Homo sapiens: one gene and its partners. The protein of the gene in region 7 interacts with the protein of the main gene of each other region in a biochemical or structural test. Each region holds a gene or a part of one and is shown on either strand. Other genes may lie near its edges. The genes, in order: FOXP1, CDC42EP3, RAB29, TCF25, CLVS1, BAG1 and LRRK1.

Region 1 (3,500 bases), on a different chromosome or scaffold from region 7:
CCCCCTCTCTCCCCACCCCAAGTAAAAAGGGAATTTTTGGTTAGTTAAAATGTGTGTATATACTATTGGGGTAGATTTCTTATTTGTTCACTCACTATAATAATACAAATGTAATGAAGTGAATGACTAAAATGTTCCAAGCATAGTAAAGAAATAGGTCATATTGCATACACTTCCTTTAAAGACCACTGATAAATGTAGGTAATTGCCTACTGGGAGGCACCCTTTTCCCTCAGTATGCCCTATGTAATTTTTTAATATTTTTATCCTTACGAGGCTAGAGATTTTCTGACAACAGTATGTTAGTTTCATTTGGTCCGTGAATGGAGATGGCAGCAAATATTCTCAGACCCTCCCAGATCTGGCTAAGACATCCCCTTATTTAGGAACGACCCTCCCCTGGCATACCCTACTCTCCATCGCCTGTTGGCAATAAACGTGCCTTGTGGATATTCCTTAAAAGCCTTCCTGCCATCCCTCTAGCAGTCACTGTAAAGTTCAAATCTCAAAGATGCTTAGGAGCCAAGATTCTCTCTGCTCGTGCCCAGCAGCCCCTGCTGTGAGCTCACTGCCTTCCCCAGCACGACCTCCTAGGCTGCTGCCTTCCTTTCTGTTGGAGTCTGGAGTCAGGCTAACTCCTAAAAATCTGCAGAGAGGTCTCTGGAGGGAGGACCCAAGCCTGTTACTACCTAAGCCAGAATTTTACACCTAGTTTCCTTGAATAGAGAAGTCCAACCCCAGAGGTGTGCACACACACCCGCCCTGCAAATCAGTGACGGGGAGAAAGCCTGACTTTTCTTGGGTTTTGCTAGTGGGGGAAATTGCTCATTTGGAAGGGCACCAGCAAGCTTAAAACAAAACTTAGCTAGGAACTCAGCAGTCGACTGTGTTTAACTTTGAGTTTTTATGTTTTTCTTACACAGTAACCCTTCCCTTATTAAAAACATGCAGAGCAGCCACGCCTACTGCACACCTCTCAATGCAGCTTTACAGGTAAGATTAACGGCCGTCCCGAATATGCAGCAGAGGCACAGGTCTCCCCTACTCATTTCAAAATATATTAGCCTTGCTCTAATTAGATATTAAATTTTAATTCCGTTAAACTTTTTTCTTAAGTGCACAAAGCATCATACTCCCTGGAGGCAAACACATCGGGCTGCTTCAGCGTTAGCGGGATGCTTAGCATTTTGAATATTGTGGCAAAAAAATTAAAAGTTCACTTATTAATATTTATCAGCAGTATCATAATTTCCATCCTCTTATTTCAGAATTTCACTTGAGGCAAAAATACCACAAGTGTAATTACTCTAGCACAGCTATTAATGTGCTGGATGATAGGCCACTGCGTCACATGACCTTCTATTGTTCATGGGTTTAAAGAGAAAGCAGGGCTTTGTATTTCTTTTTCTTCTTTTAAAGTCGACTGTAGCATCTTGGCTTTTGTCTGGGGTGGGGAGGATCTGGGGTCTGGTTCACTTTGTAAAAGTAAACCATGTCTGTTTAAACAATAGAGGTGTTTAAGAAGACTCTTTAGTTTTCCTGCAGATTGTTCAAGATTACATGATAATCACACGGAGTATTTATTTCCTACTGACAAACCAAGTACTTGTTACATCACCAATGGTACCAGGAGATGAAGACGCGGGTTTTGAGCAGGAGCGAGATTACCACCCAAAAAGGAGCTACCTGAGGCAGCCCAGCTTCTAGCAAACTTTTTACATGTTGCACATTTCAGTTCTTAAATGAAGGCTACTCCAGTGTCATTTCATTAAAGTACCTGGGTGTAGTACTCAAGTCCCCCCTCAAGAGTTCATAAGTAAGCAGTATCCTTTTGGCCAGTGGTCCTGTTTTTGCCCCTACCCAGACTGTTCGAGAAGCATATTCTATAGATAAATCTGACATTTGTCATCCAATACCATTGCAGTCCTCTGCAGCATACATTCTCAATGGGGGCTGTATCACCCCTAGATTGGTTCTGAGATACTGCAATGTCTTGTGTCCTTCCAAAGGACCATAATACTTGAGCAAATATGAACATTTCTTGGGGTGAGGGCAGAAAGAGAGAAACAAAAGTCTAAAAAGGGACAATAATGAAAAAACAGTTGAGACCTTTAGTATGATGGGAACAGGATGAGGAAGGAGGAGATACTGACAGGAGCCCTGGGTCTTGCTCTGCATTAAACAGATATTTATGGACATTAAACAGATATTTATGGAGCACGACTCTGTACCCTACAGGCCCAGAATAGTCTTAAGGCTCCTGGGAATTGATGATAGGCCATTTACCCAGTTTCAGTTTAGAGGCAGATTCACTGGCCTTAGCATTTCAGTAATTATATTTATTTATTTTTAGCCTGAACCAGATTTAATAGGAGAAACTACTTTCTGCGTTTCTTTTAATTACTTGTAGTTTACACAGTAACTTTAGAAGAGTAAATGAAAGCATGCTTCGATGCTGCCACTGTAAATACCATTCATTAGTAACTTATTTTCCCTGGAGTCTTGTGAAGTGTGAATTTAAAGCCTGCTCTATCTGGAATATGGAATAGTATTAAGATTACAAGCACATTTTATATTCATGAGCCGGAAAGGCAAAAAAAAAAAAAAAGTGATCCTCCATCCTCTGAATTCTCTTAACTATGTGACTAATTTCAATTAGTATGCTTTGTCATTACAGAACTGTTCAGGTTTCATCTCTGAACATTTGCTTTTGGCATCTTCTTCAGTAGCCCAAAACTGTCCTGCCGTTTTCCAAGAACACTTTCCGTCCATAATGAGGCAAGGGGAATAAATTGATACAAATTCATGATTTGAGAAGTGGATTGTTTCCCTCTCTTCTACGAGTTTGGATCCCTGATCAGTAGACAGACACATAAGACAACTTTCTACTGTGCAAATTAAATAAGGATTCTGCCAGCAGGCCTTCCTTTCCATTACCGCCTATTTCCATTTTTCAAGACAAGTAAAAATAATAGTGGAACAATATCTTCAAAAAAATTACTAGAGCAACATAATGCATGATATACAATATATAAAATAGGACAGCAGAATCCACTACAGAAATAAAACATGGGACTTGGGACAGATTGCATTATGCTCTGAAAAGTGAAGTAACTAAGGGTAACCGTAAAGCTTCGTATTTATAGACTGCCTTTCCCCTGAGGATCTCAGAGTGGTTAATGTTCCAGGAGCGAGGGTGCTTATGGACTTCTGCACCATTACTTAAGCAACTTCATTTTTTGGCAGAGGTGCCAGCTTGATATGAAACCACATGCTGTGCAAGGACCATTTATATAATTAACTCCATTTTTGTAACACACCTGCTTCTAAGTGGACATCAACTACCAAAAAAAAAAAAAAAAAAACACTTTGTTAGGCAGAAGCAGTTAGTGAAAATTTATCTAACCTTGGGTGGGTTGCTCTGATCACTTGCTTAACAGAGAGCGTGTTCAAGAAGCTCTCTTGCGGATCAGGCACTGGGATCTCTCTGCAGCCCATTT
Region 2 (3,500 bases), on a different chromosome or scaffold from region 7:
ATAACTTAAATGTAGTAAGTGTTACAATAGGAGAAGATACAAGACACTATGGAAATGCCTCTGATACAAGAAAAAAGAGGAACAGAATCACAGTTTAGGGCCAGGAGAGGGCCTGGGGAACATCCACACACTTCTCTGGCCTCCCTTCCCATCCCCACCCTCCCACTCTGCCATTTTTTTTCACAGGTGATGGGATGGAGCCTGCCCAGAGAAGGGGAAGGATTTGTTTTCTGACTAGCTGGTCAGCCAAAGGCTTAGAGCCTCATCTCCCGCTGTGTTAAAATCAATGTTTTAAGTCTGAACTGACCCTTGGCAAAACAAAAGTTTAAAAAATAAATAAAAAGGTTGAGAAATCAAACACATTCTGAATGGCAAAGCCACATTTCACCAAAAATGCCTCTGCTTGTTTTAAAAAATGTATGTAGCCTAAATGATTATGATGTATTTGGACAGAAAAGCTCTTTTTCAACTAAACTCATGACAACGATCTATCATTGGCATGATGTGTCTACAAATAGGACCTTCAGGTTGTCACCAGAACATGACGGATTCCCAAATGTGGAAGCTGTCTAAATAGAGGCCTGACTTGGAAGTTCCCTGCCTTCCACGCTTGCTCAGGCTGCTCTGCCAGAGATCTGCACGGGTCTGTTTTTCAACCCAGAGTCTTACATTATTAGTAGTAAGATAGCTATGCTAATAGGTGCCACTGATCCTGGCTCACTGTTCTGGAGCCAGAGATTATCTGAGATCATCTCTCACCAAATGCTACGTTTTAGGGATGAGAACAAGAAAACCCCAAGAGGTCAAGGTTATACAATTTGGGTCAGAGCTAAGACCAGAATTGGTATTTTTTTAATCTCTATTTCTACACACAGACACCCCTTTTGATTGCCCTCACTTAATTCTCCATTAGTTTTATCAGCGTTTGCCAGGATCTCCTGGTACATCCTCATCGCTCTCTTCCTGTAACGCCTGTGGTTCTCTAACTAAAATGTCCCTGGGTTGCTTCGGCTCTGTAGGACATACTGCGGTTATGTAGCTTCTGTTCTGTGTTTCCCAGAGTGTGTTTCCTGCCAGGCTGGTCCTGCAGCTGCTCAGTGGGCAAAACCATTTGAGAAACTCTGGACACGACCTCCCTGTGGAGATTCACTATATACACTGGCTTTTTAAATGTTCTGAGAAGTCCTGCAGAAAGGGACCTTCATCAAACTGGGGTCCCACAGAATACTTTTATGACATTCATGGCTCGAGGTACACTTTAGGCGGTACCCTGTTACCTAATTGCAGGTGTGTGATCTCTGCAACATGGTTTAACAAAGGGCCAAAGGCTAGAAGGCTAATAATAACTTTATCCAATATGGAAATAAAACCCAATCCACTGAAAATCCTTTTTAAAAAGTTTTAAATTTGGGATTCTAGAATTCTATTAATTCATGACTTAGGCAAGCAGTAAGGACTAAGCAAACACTAGTTTGGAACTCATCAGCTTTCACACAGTTTACTTGGCTATTTAGAAATAGTAATCTTTTAAATCTCAGCATCATGCTTTGTATTATAAAACTGTATGGTTAAAATTTGAAAACTGCTTTTCTACCAGAGGTACTGTCAAATTCAGTCCATCATCATGTGATTCTGATGAAACTTGGCACTGAAGTATATCAAGGAGAAAGCTTTTTTTTTTTTTTAAGGAAAGAAACACACCTGACTATTGCTTTAGAACTACATGGCTACTTATTCTGGTTTGTGGGGTATTGTTTTGTTTTGTAGCCTTTAAGAGGTGGGGACAGGAGAAGATTTCAAATGGAATTGGACAGCTCCAAGACTGTAACCATTGGCTTTGAGGCTACCTGAGTTACTTCGGACTGTCCTTTCCAGAACCCTGTTTCCATCTGAGAAGTCTCTGGAGCTGATCCCCACAGCTAATCACAAACCCAGAGCATCAAAGCAGTGGAGGCCAAGGCAGGCCCTGTGGGTTTTCCGGGGCAAGCAGTAAGGACAAGGTTTCAAAGGTTTCCTTGTTGTGTGTTTCTTATCTAGCAGGGCCCAGGGGATATGCTGAACTGTAACAGGGCTTGACTTCTGCCATGGACACAGCCCAGTGCCTTTCTGTTCACTTTACCTGTAGCTCCTCTTCTGCTGAGTTCTTGCAGCAACATCATCAACAAACATGGACTAAAACGTCCACTGAGTGCCGGGACTGAAGGCCCAGGTAGTGTGGTTCCTGCCTTCAAGGAGGGGATTGTCCACAGGTGGTTACTGGACTCTGCAACCCCGGGCTCCCCAGAATTTTGAAGCGAGCACACAGTCTATGCTAGAGCTTCACTTCATCCCCAGCCACCAGAAGTCCTTGTCCCTGGCTGTGGCTTGGCTTGCTTTCTCACCATATAGTCCCACATTTTCACCTAGTAAATCTCTTCGTTTATGGCATAAATTAAACTGCTTATGTTAACCCTAGCAGTGTTCATGCTAGATCCACTTTCATGCCACATATGTGGGATTGAATCATCTTTAATAATAAAATAATTTACATAGTGTTCCTCAAGGCTGGCAATTACTGTCATCTTCAACTGTGAGATACAGGGTGATATGAAATTATTTCCTTGCCAGAGGCCAAAAGTCATAACAAAAATCAGATTTAACAACTTCTCTGCCCCTCCTCCCCATTGGTGGGGGTGTGGTATTTAGTATAAGGTCAAAAAGACCTGAGTTCAAACCCTGCTTCTGCTATTTAGCTGTGTGACCTTGGCCACGTTACTAAACCTTTCTGAGCCTGTGTTCTCATCTGGAAAAGAAGAGCAATATAATAGTCTGCCTTATCCTCCACGGATATGTTCCAAGACCCCCAGTGGGTGCCTGAACCTTGGACAGTACTGAACCCCATATATACTATGTTGTTTTTTATACATACATACCTGTTATAAAGTTTAATTTGTAAAGTAGGCACAGTAAGAGATTAACAATAGAATAATTATAACAATGTAATAAAAATTACATGAATATGGTCTCTTTCTTTCTTAAAATGCCCCATATTCACCTATTTTCAGACCATGGTTGACTATGGGTAACTGAAACCCTGGAAAAGAAAACCACGGGTAATTGGGGACCACTGTACTATCTCTCTCAAAGAATAGTTATGAATATTACATGACAGAACCAGTATTAAGTACCTAGGAAAAAAACAAAAGCAACATTGAAAACCTCAACCTTTTATTGTGGCTACTCTGGGCCAGGCACTGTTCTGAGTACATAATCTTTTTTAACTCCTTTAATCCTCAGGGAAATAATATTATCTCCATTTTACAAAGGATAAACTGAGGTAAAGGTGAGGTAACTTGCCCAAAGTCACACAGGTGTTAAGTGCCAGAACTAGGACATGTGCCCAGGCAGCCTGACTCGGAGGCTTCAGAAGTTCAGTTTTTTTTCCCATCCCCTTAACCCAAAGAGCTGCTGACTTTCACATAGGATTAGCCACTCATGCCTGCACATATTGTGTTGTTAAA
Region 3 (2,499 bases), on a different chromosome or scaffold from region 7:
CATTCAGTTTTTCAAAAAGGTCACGTTTCCAAGTAGTATTTGGCATGTTCCATCAAGTACTGAATTGGTACTAGGCAGATGGATCTAAGCAATTGGTATTAGTAAGTTAACAGGTAAACAGAATAATATTTACCTTCATTTTAAAAGAAGGTATTTAACCACATTTCTCACTTGTAAGTGGGAGGTAAACATTGGGCACACACATAAAGATGGGAACAACAGACACTGGAGACTCCCAAAAGTGGGGAGAGAGGGAGTAAGCGTTGAAAAAGTGCCGACTGGGTGCTATGTTCACTACTTGGGAGACAGGCTAAGCAGAAACCCAAGCTTTAGCATCACACAATATATCCATGTAACAAACTTGCACACGTACCCCTTGAATTGAAAATTTAGAAAAAGGTATTTAAAAAATAAAGTCTCCATTTCCGCAATCCTCTTGAGCTATCAGTATAAAACAGCACTTTGACAAACTCACATTAAAGGCCAATAACCACCATGAATACAAGACTTAGTTCTCATTTATTTGTGATTTTGCAGGTGTTCAAACCAATGAATGAAAATCAATTATCTCTTCATATCAATGAAATTCACTATTTCACTATTATCTTCAGAATCATAGTGATCAAAACCCTACCTGAAAATGGTAATACAAAAGAGAACTATTAATACAAGGTTTCAGAAGACTGTGCAAGTTAAAATAATTGGCATTAAAACGACACACAACAAACCACCGAAGGTTTGGTCCCTTTTCTCTCTGATATGTGGCCTCTGATCTCTTTCTTAGGGCAGTGGTTTTCAACGTCTGTGTAGCAGAATCACCTGAAAAGCTAACAGAATATATAGAAACCCAGGATTTGTATTTGTATTTAAATGTAAATACAAAAGGTCTGGGTCTCTGTATCTTTACAAAGTTCTCCAGCAATGGTTTCCAAACCAGGCTTATCACAATCACCAGGGAAGCTCTGAAAACAACAACACATTCCTAGGCTTCATCCCTAGAAATTCTGATTCAGTAGGTTTGAGGTCGGGACCCAAAAATCTTTTTCTTTTTGTTTTTTTTTTTTGGAGATGGAGTTTCACTCTTGTTGCCCAGGCTGAAGCGCAATGGTGTGATCTCAGCTCACTGCAACCTCTAACTCCCAGGTTCAAGCGATTCTCCTGCCTCAGTCTCCCAAGTAGCTGGGATTACAGGTGCCCGCCACCACGCCCAGCTAATTTTTCTTATTTTTAGTAGAGACGGGGTTTCAGTATGTTGGCCAGGTTGATCTTGAACTCCTGACCTCAGGCGATCCACCTGCCTCAGCCTCCCAAAGTGCTGGGATTACAGGTGTGAGCCACCACGGCTGGCTCAGGACCCAAAAATCTTAAAACATTTTTAAAAAATTTTAACAAACTTCCCAGGTATTCCCGACCAGCCAGATTTGGGAACCACTGACTTAGGACACTTATTTAAGGTCTATCACAGAACTTCAGGCCTCAGAGTTTAGTAAGAATATCGATAACTTTGGGTAGGTTATAAATCACCATCCTAGAGATAATTTAACAAATTAAATGGTCTAGTAGTGATTTGATACTAAAAAGCCCTGCCCAATTTAGTACTTAAATTACCTAATGATTTTCTGTCTATCTACTTTCCTCCCCCAGGCTAGGACCTGCACATAATATGTTTCCTATGACTAAGTGCCTACGTGTTCACAAAGTTGCCCCAGTGGAGGTTGTTAACTTCTCTCTTTTCTTCTTCCATTCAGATTCCCAAAGCTGTGAGGAGCAGACCTATTTCGAAGCATCACAGCCAGCTGATGTCACTTGCAGTATTATGCATTAAGACATCAACCCAGAAACCTGCAAATGGGAGACACTAGGCAATCCTATCATGAGGATTAAGCTCTTTGTGGAAGAAAATGCTTTCATTGCATGAGATAGGTAGTTTAAAAATGACTATTCTTTTTTCTTTTTTTTTTGAGACGGAGTCCTTCTCTGTCACCCAGGCTGAAGTGCGGTGGCATGATCTCGGTTCACTGCAACCTCTGCCTCCCAGTCTCAAGCGATTCTCCCACCTCAGTCTCCAGAGTAGCTGGGATTACAGACACGTGCCATCACGCCTGGCTAATTTTTGTACTTTTAGTAGAGACGGGGTTTTGCCATGCTGACCAGGTTGGTCTCGAATTCCTGGCCTCATGTGATCCGCCTGCCTTGGCCTCCCCAAGTGCTGGGATTACAGGCATGAGCCACCATGCCCGGCCAAAAAACTTGACTATTCTTGATGCCAAGACAAGAGAAACTTAATTATGACGTTAGAAGTTTCAAAAATACAGTGACTTCTGGGACACTTCTAGTAGCCAAAAATCCACAGATGCCCAGACCCCCTCCTTCTGCATTCCAGAATCAGATGTTTACATTCCAAGACAGAAAGAATCTGAAACAACGGCCTACAAGAAATTTGGGAAATGACATTTGATCTCATTTTCCTCTCAATTGGAAGTCATGATATCAATGAAT
Region 4 (3,500 bases), on a different chromosome or scaffold from region 7:
GGAGGGAGGAGACAGGGGCTGTAAGGTGGGAGGCGGGAGCTGGGAGGTAGGAGGTGGGAGCTGGGAACTGGGAGGAGGGAGGCGGTAGCTGGGAGGTGGGAGGCGGGAGCTGGGAGGTGGGAGCTAGGCGGCGGGAGGAGGGAGGTGGGAGCTGGGAACTGGGAGGAGGGAGGCAGGAGCTGGGAGGTGGGAGGCGGGAGCTGGGAGGTGGGAACTGGGAGCTGGGAGGTGGGAATTGGAAGGAGGGAGGAGGGAGGTGAGGTGGGAGGTGGGAGGAGGGAGTTGGGAGGTGGGAGCTGGGAGGTGGGAGGTGGGAACTGGGAGGAGGGAGGCGGGAGCTGGAAGGTGGGAGGCGGGAGCTGGAAGGTGGGAGGCGGGAGGTGGCAGGTGGGAGGTGAAAGGAGGGAGGTGGGAGGTGGGAGGAGGGAGCTGGGAGCTGGGAGGTGGGAACTAGGATGAGGGAGGCGGGAGCTGGGAGGTGGGAGCTGGGAGGTGGGAACTGGGAGGAGGGAGGCAGAAGCTGGGAGGTGGCAGCTGGGAGCTGGGAGATGGGAGGTAGGAACTGGGAGGAGGGAGGTGGGAGGTGGGAGGAGGGAGGTGGGAGCTGGGAGGTGGGAGGTGGGAGGAGGGAGGTGGGAGCCAGGAGCCGGGAGCTGCTAGGTGGGAGCTGGGAGCTGGAAGGTTGGAGCTGGGAGGTGGGAGCTGGGAGCTGGGAACTGGGAGGAGGGAGGTGGGAGCTGGGAGGTGGGAACTGGAAGGAGGGAGGTACCTCTCTGGCCTGACGTAGGAGTAGATTGTGTCCGAAGGAGGCAGAGGATCAAACCCCATCACAGACTGCGTGGTCACGTCCTTCAGAAAGGGACATAAAACGAAGATGCTACAGATGCTGCCAGGGGGCCTCTACCTCTCCCAGCAGAGTCCTTCTGTCGACTCCAGCATGGACTGGATGCATCTGCTGAGAGATAGCCACAGAGTCTGACAGAAACGGCTGTGCTTTTTGTACCAACGAGCTTTGGGTGAGGGTGGGACAGTCCTTCTGCCACCAGGACACTCACGGGAGTCGAGATGAACCTGCACGGCGTCTGCCCTGCACACCAGAGTGTGTGGTGGGGAAGGAAGGGGGTCACGTGCCGCTCAAGCCTGCCAACATCTTCACCACGTGTCAGAAGCTCCCACTTCAGCAAATGCAGGCTACAGGGACCCTGAGCTGCCCTCGGGTTGCACAGTGCCACGTGCTGCCACTCTACTGAGGAGAGTCAGAAGCTCACAGCCCCAGACAAAGCCAGCCATGCCGGTCATAAGGGCCCGCAGAGCAGCTGAAGTTAAACCAGGAGGCACTAAGCTGTCCCCAGTGGACGGTCCACGGTCCTGCGACCCTCTGACTTGCTGGTTTTCTCACTCGTTCTATCTTATCCCTTAACAACAGTACAAACTCCTTAGGTTTTGAGACAGAAACGGCACCTCCAGCACAGGAGGCGTCAGAGCAGGACTACACCCCACGACTACAGAGAATCCCCCAGCAGCCGCACCACGCGCTCACAAGACCACGGATGGAGCAGCTCACCACGGTGACGACTCAGCTTGTGCTCTGAGCCCCAAAGGATTTCTCTCTCAAAACAACAAGCATCCGAACCCGGGCTGCCAGGAAAGGAGGAGCCCTCTGCACTAGACCCTGCCCCTGCCGTGGCGGGGCTGGGCTGCTGAGGGAGCCCGCACCACGCACGCCTGCATGTGGACCGCCCGGAGCAGAAGGGACGTGCATGTGACCGGCTTACACAGAGCTCCCATTTCAGCCTTTCTCCCTTACCGGGGGCAGGGCAGCGACGGCTTCCTTGATCTCAGAGAGGATCACATGGCGGTGGATATTCCTGGGTGCACGCTGGTAGAGCACCTTCCGCCTAGGGCCGGGGAGAAACAAGGCACAGCAGATAAAGCACAGCAAATGAAATGGTAACCGCCATGGAGCCTCGGCCCCCACCCCCACCCAGCACGAGGCATCTCGCTGCATCTCTGGTGGCTGCAAAAACTGTACACTTTACTCTCGAGCAGAGGCACCATGGCTGGTCCCTGGCCTGCGGCTGGGGAGCCTCTGGGGACCAATCCCAGCCACATGGCCAGTGACTCAGCCTCTTCATCCAAAGAACAAGAACGATGAGAGCCGTAGCCAGTGGCTTCTTGTGGGAAGTCACTGAGTTCATCTCCATGAAGGGACACCTGGGTGTGTCACCATCGTCACTGCTACGGCTACAGGCACAGGCACTGGTCCCTGCTGGAAATCGCTCTTGGAGAGCAGTACAGGGAACAAAATGCTCCTGTCCATGAGAATGTCCAGTCCAGTGGGGACAGCAGACACGCGGACGGGCCCATGACTGCCAGCGGCTGGGGGCACCAGCGCCTCTTGGGCACCCCCGGGCACACCTCATGTCCGCGGCACACAGACTTCACTGTGGAGATGCAAATGGGCACCACTCCCAGGCGGTCCTGAGCCTGGCCACACCACTGCACAGAGCCACGGTGCTGATGCACAGAACTAGCACAGGGCCAAGGGCGCAGACAAACGAGACAAGAACAGCAAGGGGATGCCTGTCAGTTGCAGCATATTAGGGCATGAGCCTCCGAAGTGTTCACACACAGGACAGGAGACTCTTTCTCGTCTCTGCCAGATTTCTTTACTCCCAAGATGCTGCTGTGAGAGACTCGTCATCATCTCACAGCTCATGTGGAAACACTGCAAGACCCGAAGGCACCACTCCAGCCCGAGGCACCCGGGAACAGCAGCTCGGTACCCTGCGCTGATCACCACAGCTGCCTCCCAGGAAGCCTCTGGGACACGCCAGGGGCTGTGCGCTGTCTTGTAGGCTCCACACAGGCCCCACAGCAAGGGAGGCCAAGCTGCTCACAGCCCTTCTCGCCTCCCGAATGCGAGGCCCCCGTGTCTGGGATGAGGGTCCCTGAGGAGGGGGCGTGGCAGGGCTTGTGTCAACCCCTAGCTCACCGGTTCTCACAGGCTTCCACGGCTGGGTCCCCGGCGTCCACTGCTTGCAGAACCTCGTGGACGTTCTCCTCCAGCCAGCTCATGGTGGCGGGCTCTTTCCAGAGAAAGTGTGACCTCCCAAGGTACAGGTTCACCAGCTGGCTCAGGGCAGGGGGCTGGCTGGGGGAGAGCAAGGGCTCTGAGCAGAACCCCTCTTCAGACCACAGCCTGCCTCGAGGCTGGCAGAGCCCCATGGATGGGCAGACGGGGGGTCCAGGGAGTGCCCTGTGGCCTGGAGTGAAAGGAGGCCCCTGGGCTGCTGGCCTGAGGGCGTGGGGCTGGGGCACACAGGTATGTGCCGTGAGCCTGTTGGGCAGGTTATGTTCTTTAGGAAGCAGGACTGACGTCACAGAAATGTGAAAATGCACCCAGGGCGGGTCCATCTGCGTGCACACAGGGCGAGCCCTGGAGGGCCAGGGGATGACCCCAAGGCGTGCACTTTCTCCTGTGTTTGCTCCCTCTTTGT
Region 5 (3,500 bases), on a different chromosome or scaffold from region 7:
AGGTAAATATTCGGGGTACATAACAGCTAAGTCAGATAATGAGCTTGTTTTAAAGTTGGAAAACCAACAAATATTCATGGAGTACTTATTAGATGCCAAGGTCTTTGATATTATATAGTCTAATTTCCACAGCAATCCTTAAAGGTAGGTTATTACTATTAGATGAAAAGATGAATCTGAGATTTAGATATGGCTGAAAGAACAAAGATTTGCACTCAAACCTACTTTACCCACGTTTTGTCCAAGACTCTGCTCTCCAAGTAGGTGCCTTGTTTAACATCACTCTGAGTACCGGTGCCCTCACACTCAACTACACTCACATAATAGACACACATCCACACCCTGTCAGTCCTAAAGGACATCATTTAAGGGGTGTTGTAAAACTGCCCAAATTTGGGGAGGAAATAGAATATTGTTGTCATGATCAGAAAGATAAAATCTGTAAAGCCTAAATATTATTTGAAATATAAGAACATCAATAACTGCTGAACAACACTTCAAATTTGCATGGCTTCTGGGTGTTCTTAGTAATACAAAGAACAGTTTTTAAGTACACATAAATTTAAATTAATACAAATATAAAATAAGAAACAATAGCCATATTTGTTTTGTGGGTTTCTTTCATAAGAAAAGGATGAAAAATTAATACCGGTGACAACACTTTGTACAGAAAGTCTAACCAACTAACTCATCCATTGGTATGTGTGAATTTTTGTTTCCAAATTTTTAATATATATTGAATTGGGTTAACCCTTATAGCTCTTTACCTTGCTAAAAACTTACTTCAAATTTTTAAATTGAATATGAATTTTTACCTAGGAATACCAAAAGAAATTTTTATACTGAATGAAATAAAAATAGATGCTGCTGATATATCTAAGCCAAAACTGAAAATCATAGTGACCAAAAATATTTCTTTTTAAGTGTAACTCTATTTGAAATCTTTCTTGAAAGATAATACACTCCCTTACAGCCTATTTAGCCTATATTTAAATCTCAGAGGCTGGTTGGTTACATGTTCCATGGTGCTGACCAGAAGGAGTCTTTTTTCTGATGGATGAATTTTCAGATTGGCCATTATGGTTTGTAGGACTTCTGCATGAGTACTGGCTAAGGAACATCAGACCTGTGGGTAAAAAGTGACCCTGAATTCATTGACTTTCTTTAAATGTTAGCCAACTTACAGATATAAACTATCTGTACTAGGGGCAGGGAGAGTAGTCTACAAGGATAGAGAGGAGACTCTGAATTATCTGAAAGCATAACGTGACCAGAATTTAGCCCATGCTACACAGTTCACCTTTCACCACCTTTAGCTTAGTCCTAGCCTAGGACTAACTCTTGCCACATAAATACTCATTGTGTAGACTCCCTTGGCTCCCTTTAAAACAGCAAAGAAGCACACAATCATTTGCTCCCATTTGGTCCTGCTCTCAAGAAATGTTAAAAGTAGATTGGAATGAGCTCCATCAGAGTAGAGACACTGAAAACTTTTGTAACCAAAATAGATGCCAGGTCAGAATTAGAACAGACTGCAACTCAGGGAAGAAGGACCTATGTGACAGAGGATTCTAGAACCATTTTGCAGTTTTCTTTGGGGCAAATAATGCAAGGAGTTGAGGGGAATGCCAACTTATAAAGTATGAGATTTTTGTTCCTCCTCACTGTGTTTGGTAGAAAAAGTCTTTAATTGAAGTAGCATTTACCTTACACCTCAATGTATCTTAAACAAAGTTAATATATAGGGAAATAATTGTTGAGTCATAGAATATTAGACTGGAATGTTTCGTAGGCTATTCAACTATCCCCATAAGAAGTCATTGGCAGTTGATACCCCAATTTTTAAAACAGATTAGTTGTGCTTCCTAGGGGTATCAATGGGAAGAGAAAGGAAAACAAACAAACAAACAAAAACCTTGACCCTTCTGTCTTCAAAGGGAAAGAGTATTTCTCTAAGAATAGATTCTCTTTTTTAAGGAAGAGGACCTAAAGGAGATAAGAAAGGTAGGACTCACCCAAAAACGGCCATTAACTCTATTTGCCCCCTTTTCCACTAATTGTTTTCCCAGCAGATCCATGTAACCGTGACCCTTCTTCTGGATGTGATTGCACAGACAATGGCAGCAGTGGGAATCACAGCTAAGAAAACTGCCTGGGAAAAGTAAAACACATCAGCAAGCTTAAGGGTGAGGTGGGAGGAAAGAGGCTATTTTTATAACTTTCTCCTCAATTAGAAATAGAATTTCTGAGCTCTTATTTCTTCAGAACATGGAGTGGTTTTTGTTTCATTTTAGAATGGGTCTTATTATTTAATAGTCAGACGTAAAAGTGAGAATATTAAAAAAAAAAAAACTTTTCTTTGCCCTGGCTTCTCAAAGGGTGGTCCATGCATCAGCAGTGGCAGCAGAACCCAGGACCTTGTTAGTGACACAGCATGTCAGGACTCACTTAGACCTACTGAACAGGTAACAGAATCCCCAGGCAATTTGTATGCAAATTAATGTTTGAGAAAAGCTGGTCCAGAGGATTTATAACGACCCAGAGGGGTTGAGAGGTAGGTTAATTGCCTCTGAGGCTAGAACTCATGCTGTCTGTGGACAGCCCTAATGCACTGTCCAGGAGGAACATAAAAGTACCCACAATGTGTTCTTTACCTATGGAGCAATGGCACTCATAATAGTTTATCAGATCACCCTGTTAATTACTCTCACTATGTTTGCATGCTCTATATATCAACCACAAAAGAAGGAAGAGAGGAAGGCAGGGAAATTTAGAGAGAGGGAGGGAAAGGAGGAGGGAAGAAGAGAAAAAAGGAAAGAGTGAAAGATCTCATGGGTTTTGTTTATTTTGTTTTAATTTGACCACATATTAAGAAGTTTTTATGTACAGATCCTGTAATTTAACACGCCCCCCTACAACATGCTATTCCCAGGCCCATAACTTCTCTCCTACTTCCTCCAAAACTATAAAATAATGAACAATTGAATAAGCTATGTAAATGACACACAAATATATGGAACTTTGTCTAAGACCTTTGATACTATTTTAAGGAGCATAGATAGAAAAGGAGTCATCAGTGGTCTGCACAACATTTAGGAACAGATTTGGCTACAAGCATCCTAGAAACAAGAACAGATCATCTCAAACACATGTGGAGAAATTTCTGCTGGCTCAGAAATTATCAAGCACAAAAGCTCACAGGAAATTAGCCTACCACACAGGGAACTTTCTCTGATACTCCCTGTCACAGAACAGGTGCATAAAGGGACAGAGCCTAGGGCAACCTGACCTGAGAAGGTATAATAAAGGGCTATGGGAGGCATCAGACTTAGGGAAGAAAAATGAACTTATTATCTCAATAAATGGAAGCTTTTTATGGGGCAGGGGATGTTTGGCCAGTTCATTTTCAATCCATAAAGAATCAAGCAAAAGAATATAAACTTCCCTTAAACTAAGAAAAACTTAGATTGGCAATTAAGCATAAGTTTCAATAAAGAGAC
Region 6 (3,500 bases), on a different chromosome or scaffold from region 7:
TCACTTGAACCTGGCAGGCAGAGGCTACAGGGAGCCACTGAGATTGCACCACTGCACTCCAGCCTGGGTGACAGAGCGAGACTCCATATCAAAAAAAAAAAAAAAAAAAAAAAAGCCAAAACACAAACACACCCCAATTAATGCTATAAAATGAGAGGGAAAAATAAATAAAAGTGGTCTTGAGCTAGTCCTAATCCTTACTGGGTTTTAGTACCCCATCTCTAATATAAGGAATTGAATAGGATGACTCCCCCAACCCCACTATCATGTTCAACTTGGACCTTCTATGAACCAACAAAATGTTATTTGCCTTGCCAAACACATTACAACAGCCCAGAGAGAAGCTACTTGTTCTATTTCAGACAATACATGATCCTAGCAAGGCAGGTGCTCTCCTGTGAGCATAAATGGATGCTGGCTGGGGTTTGACAATAACTATGACAATAAATGCTTATAAAGCACTTAGTATGTGTCAAGCTCAATCTACATTATTTAATTCTCCCAACAATCCTAATAGGGAAATGTCACCATTATTCCATTTTTACAGATGAGGAACTTGAGACAAAGATAAACTTGTTCACAGTAAGAGAAAGGGTGAATCCAGGATCTGAACCCAGGGAGTCTGACTGCAGAACATGTCCCCATAACCACAAGTTATATCCAGGAAGCTCTGATAGAAGGCAGAAAGTTAAGGTCCATGAAGAGAGTTACCTGCTGGATTCCAGTAAGCTCTTTATTCAACTCTTCCAGCTGGTCAGCTATCTTCTCCACAGACTTCTCCAAATGTTTCAACTTCTTTAGTTCAACCTCTTCCTGTGGACTGTTCTAAAATGTTTAAGAAGAAAATAAAGCCAATAGTCAAAAAGAACAGGCTGGGCATGGTGGCTCATGCCTGTAATCCCAGCACTTTGGGAGGCCGAGATGGGCAGATCATTTGAGGTCAGGAGTTCAAGACCAGCCTGGCCAACATGGTGAAACACTGTCTCTACTAAAAAAACAAAAAAATTAGCCAGGCATGCTGGCGTGCACCTGTAGTCCTAGCTACTCGGGAGGCTGAGGCAGGAGTATAGCTTGAACCTGGGAGGTGGAGGTTTGTAGTGAGCTGAGATCGTGCACCTGTACTCCAGCCAGGGTGACAGAGCGAGACTGTCTCAAAAAAAAAAAAGAAAAAAGAAAAAGCAATCAACAAGAACAGCAGCCTCTGTCAGGAAAAATACCTGACCACACCTGCATGAAGCCACTCACCTAGAAATAACAGTTTTAACTCTGTTGCTTCTTGGAAATCAAGTCAAAGGGTTATACATCAAGTTTTCCATCTACAAAGACTCCAGACTAGAGAGAAGGTGTTAGGTAAACATTCTGGTGAGGGCCCTGACAGCTTGGGTGCAGAGAATGGAGACAATCCAAGTGCCAGATTCAGTCTCAGCCCTATACTGATCAACAACCAAGACTGAAGCCTGGAGGGTAATCACATTTCAGTAAACACTTGTGAGGAGTCCAGAATGGCAAGAAAGGTGGAATTCTACCATTCCTTTAAATGGAATTCCTAAATGGCAGCCTCCAATTGAGCGCTCCTGTTTAATGTGATGCTGGTTAACAACGATGAATACTTTTATTGAACACTTCCTACATGCCACACACTATCCTAAGCACCTTACCTATTTTTTAAGCCTTACCACAACTCCATCAGGGAAGTACTGCTGTTTTACAGATGATGAAACTGAGGCTTAATGTAGTAAAGTAACATGAGATCACACAGTCCAAAAGAGGTAGATTAGACTTAAGTTCAGACTTTTTTCTTTTTTGAGATAGGGTCTCACTACGGTTCCCAGGTTGGAGTGCAGTGGCTGTTTACAGGCATGATCATAACTCACTGCAGCCTCAAACCCCTGGACTCAAGTGATCCTCCTGTCTCAGACTCCCAACTTGCTGGGACAATAGGCATGTGCCATGGTGCCTTCCTTGAGTTCACACTTCGCTCCATACGCTCTGTGTCAGCTCCAAGTAAAAGTCCTATAGTTTCTTCAAACTTGACTCTTTGGTTCTGCCTGTTGCCCATCACCATTCTCCCTGACCCTGAAGCAAGAAATTTAGAATATTTCCCTCTTCTCTCAGGTAAACAATTGATAGATAGGTCTAGCAGCTTTCTGCTTAGTTATGCTATCCCAAATTATTCACTTCTCTTTGTGGCAAGTCCTGAGTTCCAGTCTCCTGGCAGTTCCAAGTCTGGATTAGATTTTTTTTGCCTTCACTTTGTTTATCTGCCCTCTCTCTACTCAGCCACCTAACTCACAATAAGGGAACTTCATATGCTCATAATTCTGCTGTGTCACAATGCAGGGCTGGCCACAGCCCTCTCTCATCACCTTAAGGGTTGCTGACCTCATCTGTCTTTTTTTCCCCTCAGTTCTTTAGTCTGAACCTTCCTTTCCAGTCGAAGGTTTTCCCTTGTGGGAGATTTTAGTTAAAAGGTTGGTTAAAGGGAGAGAGGCTCCTGAACTGGAACAGAGTGATTATTCTTAATATCTACAAGTTTATTTTAACAAAAGACTCTTGCAAATTCTACTCCAAGTGAATGAGACCTGTCCCAGGCACCATTTTAACCAGACCAAGATTCCACCACCAAAACAAAAAACATATTATTAAGGCAGCACAACCGCTCCTAATTCCTAGAGCAAAAGTTCTAACCAACAGGAGCAGGAGGGTATGAGAACAACAAAACTGGTAATCCTGTAAAACCAATAAAGATTGTATTTGTTTAGAGAGGTGTTTTATCAATGCAGAATCTGGGTCCCCAGTTTGGTCTTCTAAACAGAAACATGTATAAAAGACTTCAGTCATTTGATTCTGAGGATTTCTGATGGAAAAAGCAATTTACCTTTTTCCCAATTAACATGACCCGGCAACCATCTTGTATTCCAAGTGCTGACAACGGTGTTTCCATTTCCTTCAGAGATTTTCCTAAAAAGAGGAGAAAGGTAGGCCAAGTTGTAATAATTGTACAACACTGAAAATAAATTTCAGCAGGATACAGGAAATAGACAAGTGTGTTCACTAATGAGAACTGGTATCTTTTTAGAGGGTGTCATGACCCAGTAATTTCATTTCCAGATATTTATCCTAAACAAATAATTGGACATGCGACTCCACAGTAACTACTATACGATAATATTCAGTGCAACCTTTTCATAATAGTGAGAAACTGGAAAGAGCCAAATATTCAGGAATCAGGGACCAACGAACCACACTACAGAAGACTTTAAAGTCTTCAGTAGGCATTAAGGTCTACAGTAGCCATTAAAGCTCATTTTTTGCAGGAAACCCCAATACCACAATGAATGCTGATGACACAGTGTTATTATGAGGGGTTTTATCCAGGGGAACATTTTCTTTTTCATGCATTCCTCTATTTTGAAACATGAATTTCTATTGTCTTTATAATTCAGAAATAAAATATTTTTAAAAATTAAAGACAATATGTTACACTATGAAATATAAAT
Region 7 (3,500 bases):
GACTCAATAAAGAGTGAGTACAGCTGAAGGAGCCGGGGAGCAGAAAGTATATATGTCAGGTATGAGGAAGAAAATAGATTTTGGAAGTTATGATAACTGTAGAGAGTGAGTTGAGCATAGTTTGTGATTTTGAGGGCCTCTAAAAGTATTAGGGTGGCAGCAGCCGCTGCACAGAGACATGAGGGCTAGGCTAAAACAGTAAGGTCAAGTTGTTTGGACAGAAGGTCTACAGGGTGCGGTCCTGGCTCTTGTGTAAGAATTCTGACTGCACTAACCATGCCTAGGAAGGAAAGGAGTTCTTGTTTTGTAGAAGGGGTTGGGGTTTGGGAGATTAATCGGACATGATCGGCAGGGAGAGCACGTGTGTCTTTATGAGAATTATGCTGAGATAGGTAACAGATAGGGAAAAAATTTGGGCTTGACTGATGTAATGGGGGCTGTCTGTGAAGCTTTGGGGCAGTACAGCCCAGGTAATTTGCTGAGCCTGATGGGTGTCAGGGTCAGTCCAAGTGAAAGTGAAGAGAGGCTGGGATGAAGGGTGCAAAGGAATAGTAAAGAAAGCATGTTTGAGATCCAGAACACAATAATGGATTATGGAGTGAGGTATTGAGGATAGGAGAGTATATGGGTTTGACACCATGGGGTGGATAGGCAAAACAATGTGGTTGATAAGGCACAGATCCTGAACTAACTTGTAAGGCTTGTCTGGTTTTAGGACAAGTGAAATGGGGGAATTGTAAGGAGAGTTTATAGGCTTTAAAAGGCCATGCTGTAGCAGGAGAGTGATAACAGGCTTTAGTCTTTTCAAAGCATGCTGTGGGATGGGATATTGGTGTTGAGCGGGGTAAGGGTGATTAGGTTTCGATGAGATGGTAAGGGGTGCATGATCGGTCACCAAGGAGGGAGTAGAGGTATCTTATACTTATGGGTTAAGGTCGGGGGATACAAGAGGAGGACACAAAGGAGGCTTTGGATTGGGAAGAAGGGCAGTAATGAGGTGTGGCTGTAGCCCAGGAATAGTCAGGGAAGCAGATAATTTAGTTAAAGTGTCTCAGCCTAATAAGGGAACTGGGCAGCTGGGGATAACTAAAAGGAGTGCTTAAAAGAGTATTGTCTAAGTTGGCACCAGAGTTGGGGAGTTTTAAGAGGTTTAGAAGCCTGGCTGTCAATACGCACAACAGTTATGGAGGTAAGGGAAACAGGCCCTTGAAAAGAAGGTAATGTGGAGTGGGTAGCCTCCGTATTGATTAAGAAGGGGACGGGTTTACCTTCCACTGTGAGAGTTACTGGCAGCTCGGCGTCCGTGATGGTCTAGGGGGCTTCCGAGGTGATCGGGCAGTGTCAGTCTTCAGCCGCTAAGCCAAGAAGATCTGGGAAGGAGTCAGTCAGAGAGCCTTGGGCCGGAGTTCCAGGGGCTCTGGGAGTGGCTGCCAGGTGAGTTGGACAGTCCGATTTCCAGTGGGGTCCCGCACAGATGGGACACGGCTTAGGAGGAATCCTGGGCTGCAGGCATTCCTTGGCCTGGTGGCCAGATTTCTGGCACTTGTAGCAAGCTCCTGGGGGAGGAGGTTCTGGAGGAATGCCTGGCCGCTGCAGTTCAGGTGTTTGGAAGTTCTTGTGTGCTGGAGATGTGGCTGGGGTTTGTCTCACAGTGGAGGCAAGGAATTGCAACTTTTTTCTATTATTGTACACCTTGAAGGCAAGGTTAATTAAATCCTGTTGTGGGGTTTGAGGGCCGGAATTTAATTTTTGGAGTTTTATTTAATGTAGGGAGCAGATTGGGTGATAAAATATATATTGAGAATAAGACGGCCTTTTGGGCTTTTAGGGTCTAGGGCCGTAAAGTGTCTCAGGGTTGCTGCCAAACGAGGCATGAACTGGGCTGGGTTTTTATATTTGATGAAAAAGAGCCTAAACGCTATCTGATTTGGGATAAAGAAAAAGGAGCATTAACCTTGACTATGCCTTTAGCTCCAGCCACCTTTTTAAGAGAAAATTGCTGGGCAGGTAGGGGAGGGCTAGTCACGGAAGGAAACTGTAAGCCGGACCGGGTGTGAGGAGGGGAGGTGATAAAAAGATTATATGGTGGAGGAGCGGAGGCTGAGGAAGAATTGGGACCTAGCTCGGCCTGGCAAGGAGCAGCCTGGGGAGGAGGGGAGAGGTCAGATGGGTCTATAGAAAAGATTAGAAAGACTCAGCGATGCTTGGGGTTGGGACTGAGGAGACAGGCGGGAGGGAAAGAAGGAAGATTTGGGATGAGTTGCACTGGGAACAGAGACTAGGGAGGGACTGATGTGTAAAAGAACGCCTGGACGTCAGGCACCTCAGACCATTTGCCCATTTTACGACAAGAATTATTTAGATCTTGCAGGATGGAAAAATTGAAAGTGCTGTTTTCCGGCTATTTGGAACTACTGTTGAGTTTGTATTGGGGTCAAGCGGCATTGCAGAAGAAAATAAGGCATTTAGGTTTTAGGTCAGGTGTGAGTTGAAGAGGTTTTAAGTTTTTGAGAACATAGGCTAAGGGAGAAGAAGGAGGAATGGAGAGTGGAAGGTTGCCTACAGTGAAGGAGGCAAGTTTAAAGAAAAGGGAGAGTAGAGACACGGAGAGAAGCGGTTCAGGGGTTCTTACTCTCCAGAAAAGTGGGAAAGGGGTCGGGGTGCAGAGATACGAGGTCGGGATGTGGAAATAAGGGATCAAGGTGCAGAGATATAAGAGGTGGGGGCATGGAAATAAGGGATTGGGGCACAGAGATAAGAGGTTGGGGCACAGAAATAAGGGATTGGGGCGCAGAGATATGAGGTTGGAGTACTTGCTCCTCCTCTAGAAAAGCGGGACTTGCCGCTCAGGGTGAAGGAGAAGGGGTTGGGGGTTTCTTGCCCCCCAGAAAGGCGGAGAAGGGGTAGAGACACGGAGAGAAGGGGTTGGGGTCCTTGCCCATTCCCCAGAAAAGCGGGACTTGCCGCTAAGGGTGAAGGACCAAGGCAGGCGTCCCTGCGTGGTCTGACACCTCTGAAACCTGGGTGAATAATCAGAGAGGTGTCCCTGCAATGATTAAACACCAAGGGAAGGCTGCCTTCCCAGTCCGTGACCGGCGCTGGAGTTTTGGGTCCACGGATAAAACGTGTCTCCTTTATCTCTACCAGAAAATGAAAGGAATTGAAGTTAAGAGAAGGGAGAAATTGAAGTGTGGCGCCAAGATTGAAAGGAGAAAGAGGTTGAGGGATAGTGAGGGAGGTTGGAGAAGAGAGTAAAAAGAGGCTGCTTACTGGATTTGAAATTGGTGAGATGTTTCTTGGGCTGGTTGGTCTGAGGACTTGAGGTTGTAGGTGGATCTTTCTCATGGACCAAAGAGCAGGAGGACAGGGGATTGATCTCCCAAGGGAGGTTCCCCCCCCCCTCCCCCCGCGCCAGTTACGGCACCAAATTTAATGCACGTCCATGTGAAGAGACCACCAAACAGGCTTTGTGTGAGCAACAAGGCTGTTTATTTCACCTG

The links.
Region 1: the proteins of LRRK1 (region 7) and FOXP1 form a complex in vitro, tested with the Homo sapiens proteins (2 studies listed by BioGRID and IntAct, with this or other methods).
Region 2: the proteins of LRRK1 (region 7) and CDC42EP3 form a complex in vitro, tested with the Homo sapiens proteins (2 studies listed by BioGRID and IntAct, with this or other methods).
Region 3: the proteins of LRRK1 (region 7) and RAB29 form a complex in vitro, tested with the Homo sapiens proteins (one large-scale study listed by BioGRID).
Region 4: the proteins of LRRK1 (region 7) and TCF25 form a complex in vitro, tested with the Homo sapiens proteins (2 studies listed by BioGRID and IntAct, with this or other methods).
Region 5: the proteins of LRRK1 (region 7) and CLVS1 form a complex in vitro, tested with the Homo sapiens proteins (2 studies listed by BioGRID and IntAct, with this or other methods).
Region 6: the proteins of LRRK1 (region 7) and BAG1 form a complex in vitro, tested with the Homo sapiens proteins (2 studies listed by BioGRID and IntAct, with this or other methods).

Annotation. Positions count from the first base shown.
Region 1 is NC_000003.12:70,968,229-70,971,728, reverse strand, and holds part of FOXP1 (forkhead box protein P1), read left to right. Parts: intron 1-923; coding exon 924-993; intron 994-3,500. UniProt on the Homo sapiens protein: Transcriptional repressor. Can act with CTBP1 to synergistically repress transcription but CTPBP1 is not essential. Plays an important role in the specification and differentiation of lung epithelium.
Region 2 is NC_000002.12:37,665,143-37,668,642, forward strand, and holds part of CDC42EP3 (cdc42 effector protein 3), read right to left. Parts: intron 1-3,500.
Region 3 is NC_000001.11:205,767,486-205,769,984, forward strand, and holds the end of RAB29 (ras-related protein Rab-7L1), read right to left. Parts: 3' UTR 501-2,499; downstream 1-500. UniProt on the Homo sapiens protein: The small GTPases Rab are key regulators in vesicle trafficking. Essential for maintaining the integrity of the endosome-trans-Golgi network structure.
Region 4 is NC_000016.10:89,904,592-89,908,091, reverse strand, and holds part of TCF25 (ribosome quality control complex subunit TCF25), read right to left. Parts: intron 3,155-3,500; coding exon 2,996-3,154; intron 1,899-2,995; coding exon 1,808-1,898; intron 850-1,807; coding exon 770-849; intron 1-769. UniProt on the Homo sapiens protein: Component of the ribosome quality control complex (RQC), a ribosome-associated complex that mediates ubiquitination and extraction of incompletely synthesized nascent chains for proteasomal degradation.
Region 5 is NC_000008.11:61,290,970-61,294,469, reverse strand, and holds part of CLVS1 (clavesin-1), read right to left. Parts: intron 2,153-3,500; exon of another isoform or gene 2,016-2,152; intron 1-2,015.
Region 6 is NC_000009.12:33,258,209-33,261,708, forward strand, and holds part of BAG1 (BAG family molecular chaperone regulator 1), read right to left. Parts: intron 2,962-3,500; coding exon 2,879-2,961; intron 826-2,878; coding exon 712-825; intron 1-711. UniProt on the Homo sapiens protein: Co-chaperone for HSP70 and HSC70 chaperone proteins. Acts as a nucleotide-exchange factor (NEF) promoting the release of ADP from the HSP70 and HSC70 proteins thereby triggering client/substrate protein release.
Region 7 is NC_000015.10:101,072,857-101,076,356, reverse strand, and holds part of LRRK1 (leucine-rich repeat serine/threonine-protein kinase 1), read right to left. Parts: 3' UTR 1-3,500.